Linked DNA regions of Homo sapiens: region 2 is linked to region 1. Evidence: fine-mapped QTL for protein levels in blood plasma. Region 1 holds a variant in brackets. A gene starts in the other region. All regions are shown on their forward strands.

What was found. PIP is the chance, under the fine-mapping model, that this variant and not a neighbour inherited with it causes the effect. The UK Biobank Pharma Proteomics Project read protein levels with antibody pairs (Olink). The fine-mapping took linkage between variants from a reference panel, not from the people measured, so its PIPs are less certain.
Region 2: it holds the start of KRT5, and the variant in region 1 is fine-mapped to the plasma level of the KRT5 protein (UK Biobank, PIP 0.98).

Annotation. Positions count from the first base shown.
Region 1 is chr6:160,706,160-160,710,550 of GRCh38, forward strand. It overlaps PLG (plasminogen), which reads left to right. Exons shown (of 19, transcript NM_000301.5): 2 at 248-383; 3 at 1,541-1,647. Among named protein-coding and RNA genes, the nearest start is that of PLG, 6.1 kb to the left of the region's middle. The variant G/A (reference allele first, on the strand shown) is at 1,621.
Region 2 is chr12:52,519,379-52,523,769 of GRCh38, forward strand. KRT5 (keratin 5) reads right to left here and starts at 1,016. Exons shown (of 9, transcript NM_000424.4): 1 at 364-1,016. The coding sequence starts at 918. RefSeq lists enhancers at 1-103, 2,923-3,888.

The DNA of each region.
Region 1 (4,391 bases):
GCCTTGCTCCCTCTCTCCCTTCTCTGGTAGTCCCCAGTGTCTTTAGTTGCCATCTTTATTTATGTCCAAATGCCCGACTGTGTGTTCTTAACTAAACATTTTGATTCATAGCTACCCATTCTACTTCCAGTAAACAGAAAGTTTTATTTGGTTAATGCTAACCAAATAGATTAAAAGGAAGTCATGACAATTAGACATTGACATTGATTTACTGACCATTTATTCCACTTGGATCTCCCACCTCTAGGTCAAGGAGAGCCTCTGGATGACTATGTGAATACCCAGGGGGCTTCACTGTTCAGTGTCACTAAGAAGCAGCTGGGAGCAGGAAGTATAGAAGAATGTGCAGCAAAATGTGAGGAGGACGAAGAATTCACCTGCAGGTATTTCCATTGTCGTTGCACCTACGCAGGAATCTGTAATTCAGATGGCAAGTAATTTACTCACAAATTTATTAATGATTTAAGAGGAAAGAGAAATTTATGGAGCCAGAGTTTGGAACTATATTTGCTCACAGTATGTGAAGCCATACTAACAGCTTCTTGTTAAGGTTTATTGGAGTCTTTGTTAGAAAAATACCCTCAAAGGAAGTTATTTGTTTTTACACCGGACACAAACATTAGCAGTTATTGTTCTGAGCTCCAGTTTTCAACATCATCATCAGTAAATGTTTGTTGAGGATCAGGTGAATGAAAGTGTCCTAGATAGATCTGAGCAATGACTTATAGCTACAAGATCCAGTGCCTGCCCTTTAGTATTTAAGGTGTAGTCAAAGAAACTGGATATAATGTTAAAAAAAAAAAAAAGACAGCCCAAGTGAGGTACAGGCATAATCAATGCATGCTCTACCCAGATCCAGAAGAAAGAACAGTGCCTAAGGTTGAGGCAGCTAGAGAAGGCTCAGGGAGGAGGTGGGAACTGAGCTGGGTTTGGAGTTGAGAGAGCTCTTGACAAGCACCAGGAAGGCAGGGGAAGATGCGGCCCTGCACCTTCTGAGGGGGACCATTAAGAGATGAAGTTGACTAAAGCAGAGACTTTGTGTAGGTGACGGGCTTGGGAAGGTAGCTATGGAATCCAGACTGAGCACCCATAGCAGGACCACGGGATGGAGATGGGAGGGGTCAGGGGCCAGGGTGGGGTGGAATGTGGAGCAGAGGTTCAGGGGAACTGATCAGAGTTGGGAGGTCATGGAGACGGACTATCTTGGCGAATGGGTTCAAAGCAACCAGAGTTGCTTCTTTCCAACCCAAAAACAAAAATTAAGAAGATGAGTGAAGAAGAAGTAAAGCAGTTGAAACAGGAAGAAAGGGAAAATTATGAGGGAGGGAAGGTAAGGGCAGATAAGATTTGCTGCCACGTTGGTGTATTTTGTTCAGTACTTCATCGATGCCATGCCCAAATAACTGAAAGAGGCAGCAATTCTGAGCTCTCTGGTCCCTCAAGATATTCAATGATCTTTAGCATGTCTCACTTATTAATAAACATTTGTTTTCTTTAAATAAAGAAAAATACTTATTGGATTTCCTGCTTCGTTCTGCAGGGCATTCCAATATCACAGTAAAGAGCAACAATGTGTGATAATGGCTGAAAACAGGAAGTCCTCCATAATCATTAGGATGA[G/A]AGATGTAGTTTTATTTGAAAAGAAAGGTGAGTACATTTTCTTCCTCCTCCTCCTACTGTCCTCCCCATCCTCCCACTCTTCCTCTTTCTCTATTCTATCTTTAATTTATAAGACCAGAGGAGGAAGGCACTATCGTGTTATAAAACTGAATTCTGAGTTAGGACAGGATTTGATTACTAACTAACCATGTCAGCTTGAGTGTATTACTTCACCTCTTAGATTTAATTTTTTTTGTTCAAAAGATGAAAGGATTAGATTTACAAAATCACTTCTACCTCTATGACCCTGAAAATAAGATTTTTAAAATATTATTTTATATTTAACAAGGAGATGGGAAGTCTAAGCATTCCTTTTGGTCTTGGCTTCTTATTCTGCAGGGTGACCATGGTCCTTGGGCCCTAACATCTGGATGAAGCCTTGTAAAACAGAAATACTGAGGTGTTTTAATCCTCAGAAACATTTAGATTGGGACACAAATCTTATTTTTACTCTTAAATTTTTCACATTTTGGGGGACATGGTCTATATTTTTCTCAGATTTCTGAAATGTTGTCTTTTAAAAATGTGTAAAAGTTACAGTTCCTTTTCTATAGTTTATTTTAAAATGTGGGTCAATAGTCCCACTGCTTAGAATAAGAGGCAGACAGGATTTCAATAGAAATTGCATGCCTTTTTAGATGTGCAAATGTTTCATTAAGCATTTCCCATCAAGTATATCCCATCAAGTATGCTCCCATTAAGCATATCCCATCAAGTATAAATATTTGAAGGGATGCATGACACTTTAAAAACTGTTTCCTCTACTGTGTTGGTAGCCAGGTATTAAGACTGTTAATAGTAACAATTTAGCTCTCCAAACATTCTGCATCCCAGGTGTTAAAGAGGACTGGAAACACCTTAGTTCTTGTATTCTTGAGGATGATTTGCCATATTGTGTCTAGTATTACGGCAAAACTCTAAGTAGCATTTTAAATAGTATTTATTTGGGTTGGAATTATTTCTATGCATTGACTCATCTTCCTGGGTTTCATTAGCTGTACGCATTGTACTTCCTTCCTTACCACTATTTATCTCGAATTCTTGAGATTAAAGTGCAGATTAAATCTAAACTTTATCTGGTGAAGTTATTAGTTCTTACAAGTAGCAAGCAAACGGTAAACTAAATAGGATCACCTAATTGTACCAGATTTTAAAAAAAAAAAACCCTGATTCTCCTGATTCTCTCTACAAAATGCTAACATTTAAATATGTCATTTGTAAATTGTTAACCAGAAGGAACATGGGAATGACTGTAGGTTGAGTTTGAAGTCTGAAGTTTGAAGGCTTAGTTTGCTTGTTTTCAAAGTGACAGAAGGGAGCAAAAGGTTATATAAACTCTGATGGGTACATACAAAAAAAAAAGAAGTGAAAAGTCAAAAGTCAGTCATTTTTTGGTCCTTGTTTCTTTGCTGTGGGATATTGACCTGCTACTAACTTACCTGCCAGGGTTTTGCCAGGAACAGTCAGTGTTAGATCACATTTACTTCTGCCACTTGCCACCAGCCACACTGCCTTCACCAAGTCCAAGACCCTATCACCACTGGTTGGGGCTACTTGTAGCTGTACACATGATCTCTAAGAAATGTAACTTCCCTGTTTAAAGCCCTTCCTAGTGCCCTTAAAATAAGACCCAAAGACTTCCCAAATGTGCTAGGGCCCAGCATTATTTAAGTAACCCCCAGCTGCTGTTTGCTTGGCTTGCTAAACTTTTCTACACTGGCCTTACTTCTGTTCCTTCACCACCCCAAGCACACACCCTCCTGCCTGGGACCCTCTTCACCTTTGTCCTGCTGTGCCAGCTCCTTCTTATCTCCTAGGTGTCAGCTCAATCATCATGTCCTTTGCAAATCTTCCTTGACCCCTAGACCTCCCTTTCACAAAGTACCTTGAGTTTACACTTTTGATGAGTGTCTTATGTCTACTGTAATACTATGTCCCAATGAAGATGTACTTGCAATCATAATACGCAGTATTGGGTTAAAAGCATTAGTTTGCTGTAGGTATGTTAGGAGCACTTTCCCCATGTGATTGATCAATTAATTAAAAAATGGCTAAAGTGGGTAACCTTAAATGATGGTGTAAATATACCTTAAACATTTTATATTTTCATTGAAAACACAAGTGTACTTGACACCTTTTGACGTAGAGCAGAGGCTTTTCTTCTTCGAATATGGGGTCACCAGTAGAAGGTCTCTGGTGTATTTCCTGCATAAACTATGCTCCAGTGCAACATCTACAATAATTACTTTCCTTATTTTTGAAGTGGACCATATCTCGACATTTATTAATCAATCTGAATGTGTAAAACCTTTAGATTTTTATGAATTCCTCCTCAAGCTTTATAGTCAACTATATGAGTGGATTGCCCTCTGTGGATTTGATAGCAATTTTTTAAATGATTCATGTTTCAACTTGTTAAAAACATTTAATTTAGTTAAAAACCAAACAAAAAAGAGCTTTGTTTCTTTTCACATTCATTTCTCAGTTTAGATCATCTTTAATTAAATATAAATGTAAGAAAGTTGGAAAATGCAAAGAAATGACTCGTTGTAAGCACATAACTCACGTGGGGGGAACAGACATGGGTGGGCACACTAGCAAACACCTGCCAGCTGCATGTGGACCCAGGTGGGCACCGGACTGTTTTAAACACAGGAGAGGGCCCGTTGTCTAACTGGTGAGTTGGTTGAGTGGAAGCTGGTTGAGAACTTTTACTGCAAACCATTTACAGT
Region 2 (4,391 bases), not on the chromosome of region 1:
GCTGCTTGGAGTGTGTCCCGGCTCAGGGGTGGCTGCAAAGGCACTCAGGCTGCTGCCCATGCACTTGTCTACCTTCCTGTACAGTCAGCCCCTTTATATATGGCATGAAATTCATCTCTCTGTCCAACAGTTGTTAAGAGGCCCTTGTGAGCTAACCTCTGAATGGGAAGAAATAATTCTCCCTTCCCAGCTGCCAGTCTAATTCAGAACGTGTCCACAAATCCAGGGCACAGAAACAAACGGAAACACAGAACTGTACAACTATAAAAGTATTTGCACAAAGCCAAAACATCTTCCTTCTTTCTCTCTCTTTGGCATTTATTTCAGACCCACAGTGATTTTTTACAAAAGATCGTAGCTCACCTTGTCGATGAAGGAGGCAAACTTATTGTTGAGGGTCTTGATCTGCTCGCGCTCCTCGGTCCTCACCCTCTGGATGCTGGGGTCGATTTGCAGGTTGAGGGGAGTCAGGAGACTCTGGTTGACAGTGACCTCTTGGATACCTCCAGGAGGGCAGACAGGAAAGCCAGGGCCACCGAAGCCACCTCCAAAGCCAGCTCCGCCACCGAGCCCAAAGCCACCACCAGCTCCACCGCCGAAACCAAATCCACTACCGGCACCACCTCCAAAGCCATAGCCGCCTCCAGCACCAGCACCAAACCGGTTCCTGAAGCTGCCACCACTAGTGCTGATGGATATCCTCTTGGAGCCCCCCAGGTTGTAGAGGCTCCGGCTGCCATAGCCACCCACTCCACAAGCACCCGCAAGGCTGACCCTGCCGAAGCCACCACCACCGCCACCCCCGGACCGGGACACGGAGGTGAAGCTGGTGCGGGAGACAGACGGGGTGATGGCAGAGGCGGTGCTGAAGCTACGACTGCCCCCGCTCCGGAAGGACACACTTGACTGGCGAGACATGGTGGCTTGTTCCTGGTGGAGCAAGAGAACCAGGCACTAGTGGGTTGGGAGGTGCTGGAGAGAACAGAGCTCAGCAGGACGCAGAAGGTGGCTCTGTTACCCAGGAACGGTGATGCCCCCTTTTTATCCCTTCCAGAACTGGGCTGGGCGAGAGAGCTGTCGAGCTGTGAATGATTAAGTGGGCTGGGCATGCCTGGGGGGCAGCTGTGAGCTCACCGGTCACACCTGCACAGTGGTGTGGGGTGCAAACGCTTTCTTCCTGGCAGGCTCTGCTCAGTTAGAAATAACCTTGCCTTGCAGCACTGATCTCTTGGCAGCAAGTTGGTGACGCTGCTAGCAAGTATGTCTTCACCATAGAGGCTGGGGGCTGTGAGCAGCCCAAAAAGGATGCCAGGAACTGAGGGGGCATTGGCATGGCCAGTGTCCTGGGGACTCTTACAGGACCAGGAGTATTGACAACCATCCCAGTACGGTACATGCTGAGCACCTGCCCTTCCAGCTTGGGGAAGCTGTCCATCAGCGGGGGGCAAACGATTCCCCAGTGATCTGCTCTTACACTTTTCCAGGCAGCAGGTTGCTGCAGGGTTTTCCCCTCTGGGAAAGGCAATCTGTAGCCTTATATTCTTGGTTATGTGCTAGAGGGAAAATAGAGTTTCATCCTTTTCTGCACAATTTTTTTCTTAGGGAAGGCACAGCTATCCCAGAGCCCACTGGGCAGATCTGCCTGCAAGGTTTAGGCCAGAGAATGTGGGAAGCCCTCAGCGCCCCCTATAAACCACTTTGACCTCTTTAAGGCCAGGTTTATCCTTCCATAGCTCCTCCTAACTCAGCATTTTTTCTGCCCTTTGACCTTTTCCTTGCTCTTTGGCCTGGGCAGGACTCTGTGGGGGGTTTAGGAAACCCGGGGATCCCATGCAATCCCTTAAAAAAAAACCCTGAGACTCATGGGCTATAGCGTCTCTCTTTGGGGGTAGCTACTCTGCCGGTTCCCCAGCCCCCCAGGTGTGTTCCAGCAAGCTCTATTCCACTAGGGAAGAAATGAGTCATCGTATGTGTTGATACAGGCTGAAGGCCGCCACAAACACATACCTGCAGGAGCTTCTAATCTCATCAGGAACATGTTGAGAGTCTGACGGCCTGTTATAACGGCGAACCACCCTGTTCCAAGCAGCGGGACTTGCTCTGCTTTCTCTATGCTGTAGCCCACAGCCTCCTTCAGGGCCAAGGCAATGGAAAACGGGATTCTAAGTCTATGGATTGTCCTGCCAGAAAGGCTAGCCAGAGCAGGCCTGTGGGCCCAGGCAGCTGGCATGACAATCTGCCAGCTGCTTTAGGGAGGGCCCTTTGAGATCCCCTCTGCAAAACTTGTCTGGGGGGTTGTGGCACCAGGTGGAGGAAAGGGGGTTTCTGATGAGGTTTTAACACACGTCTGTTCTAAACCACACCCACTCTTTTTGGCAGCAGATCTGAGTGGGGCCACCTCTCTGCCGTCCCCCAAATAGAAGCAGGGCTCTCAGGCAGGACAGTGCTTGGGCTGTTCAGAGTTTCGGGGGCGCCCTGTGGCCCGAGGCTGGAGGTAGGAATGCAATGGGGATGGCTTCAAAGCCTCAGGGAGGAGGGGCTATATTCTCAAGAGTAGAAGAACAGGACCAGACCCAGGCTCAGGAATCTCTCACCAGGGCCTGCGGTTGGCCACAAGGAAGCCAAGGCAGTGGGAAAATGACTCCCTGGTGCTGAGGATCAGCTGAAACAGTGACTTCTCACCAGAGGGCTGCGATGAGCAAGCAGCTGACAGGTCAATCTCGGCAGACAGACCAATGGCCGGAGCCGGTCTTACAGGTCTTGAGCAAAATGGTTTGGGTGGCCTCCCTGGCTGGAGCATTTCTGAGACCCTCAGAGATGAATTGTGCTGAGCTCACCATTTTCACATTTGGTTGCTTTCTGGAGAACAGATGTGAGTGTCCTGGAGGCCTGAGACATACCAGGGGACCCTCGGCTCCTGATAGAACAGAACAGATCCAAGCCTGAAGCAAGTGTCTGAGGACTCGTAGTGGGATGCTCCTGCTCCACTCAAAGATCGATATCGGGGTATATCCCCACCACCACATACACTCACAGGTCCCGGGTACAGACCTCACTGCCCTCAGGGAAGCCCCACCCCTCCTGAGACACTGGGACATTCTCTTCTCCCCATTCATTCTCCTCCCAGCTGTGTTGTGAAGAAAGAGGACTTGGCAGAGCAGGAATGCGTTCTGGCTAGTCTGAGGATTGCTAGAGTGTGCCAAGCTCAGATCCATGTGCCAGGGACCAACGGTGAGTGTGTGGTGCTCCATGGGAGCAGGGAGCATGTGGGTGCTCCATGGGAGAAGCAGCAGCACTCTTCTATCCGAGCTTCGTGGGAATCCTCCCATGAGCAGGCAGGGCAGCCCCTCCCTCAATGCCAGACCTGGACAGGTATAAATAATGGAGCCGCTCCTGGTGGGGAGCCAGGCACCAGCACCACTGCAGCTCGGGAGAGTCCCACCCCAGCCTGGAATTTCACTGTGGCAGGAAGGGAGGGATTGTGTTAGGCTCACCAGGGAGCTTTCCTGCTGGGCACCCCACAGAGGCAGTTCCCAGGCTTGGTGGGACATGTTGCTCAGCTTCTCCTCTGGGTGCTGCTTTCCTTGTCAGCAGAAGACAGTGCAGGGCCCGCCCTGCTGCTCTCCCCATCAGAGAAAGGACAGTAAGCTGGCTGCCCTGACCTCTCTCGCAGAGCTGTGCAGGGAATGTAGGACCTGGTCAGCATTTCATACATGGAGAAGCCCTTCACAGACACCAGGGAGAGGGTGGTATCCATTCGTGGAACAAGGGTTAGGCAAATCCTGCCATCCCAGCCCAGGATTCCTTCTCCTCAGAGCCTCCACTCCAATCTGTAGGGCTTTAGTAGAAGATACATTTAATAGAGCATGATAAATAGAACATGTTCCATAAAACAGCATTTGTACATATCCTCTAAGTCCCCCCCAGCAGGGCAGTCTCCAAGGTTAGGGAACATCTCTGCATGGCCCACACCCTCAGCCCAGCCTTGGGCACTGGAAGTGTTCTGCAGATATTTTTTGGAGTGAATTGACAGACAGAAAATCCTCTTCCTCCGCTCCTTCCCCAGATTGTTATGTGAAGCCCACAATGGCAAGAACCTCAATTGCTTTTGCACCAACCTATATCTACACCAACCTATGTATAACAGAATGTATATACATTATATATATTCACATATATTTCTGTGAATCCTCCAGCCCTATGCTGAGTCTCAGAGTCTTGTCCATCTGATTTTGTCTCTCAGTCCGTGTCTACAGGATGAGTCTGTTGTCCCCTTCACACTGGGTATGCTCTGTGTTTAGGATTTAGGATTTAATCTAGCATTTAGGATTCTTTATTCCTTAGGCTTCCCTCCATCCTTCTTCTTCCCTCACCCTTATTCTGAGGGTGTT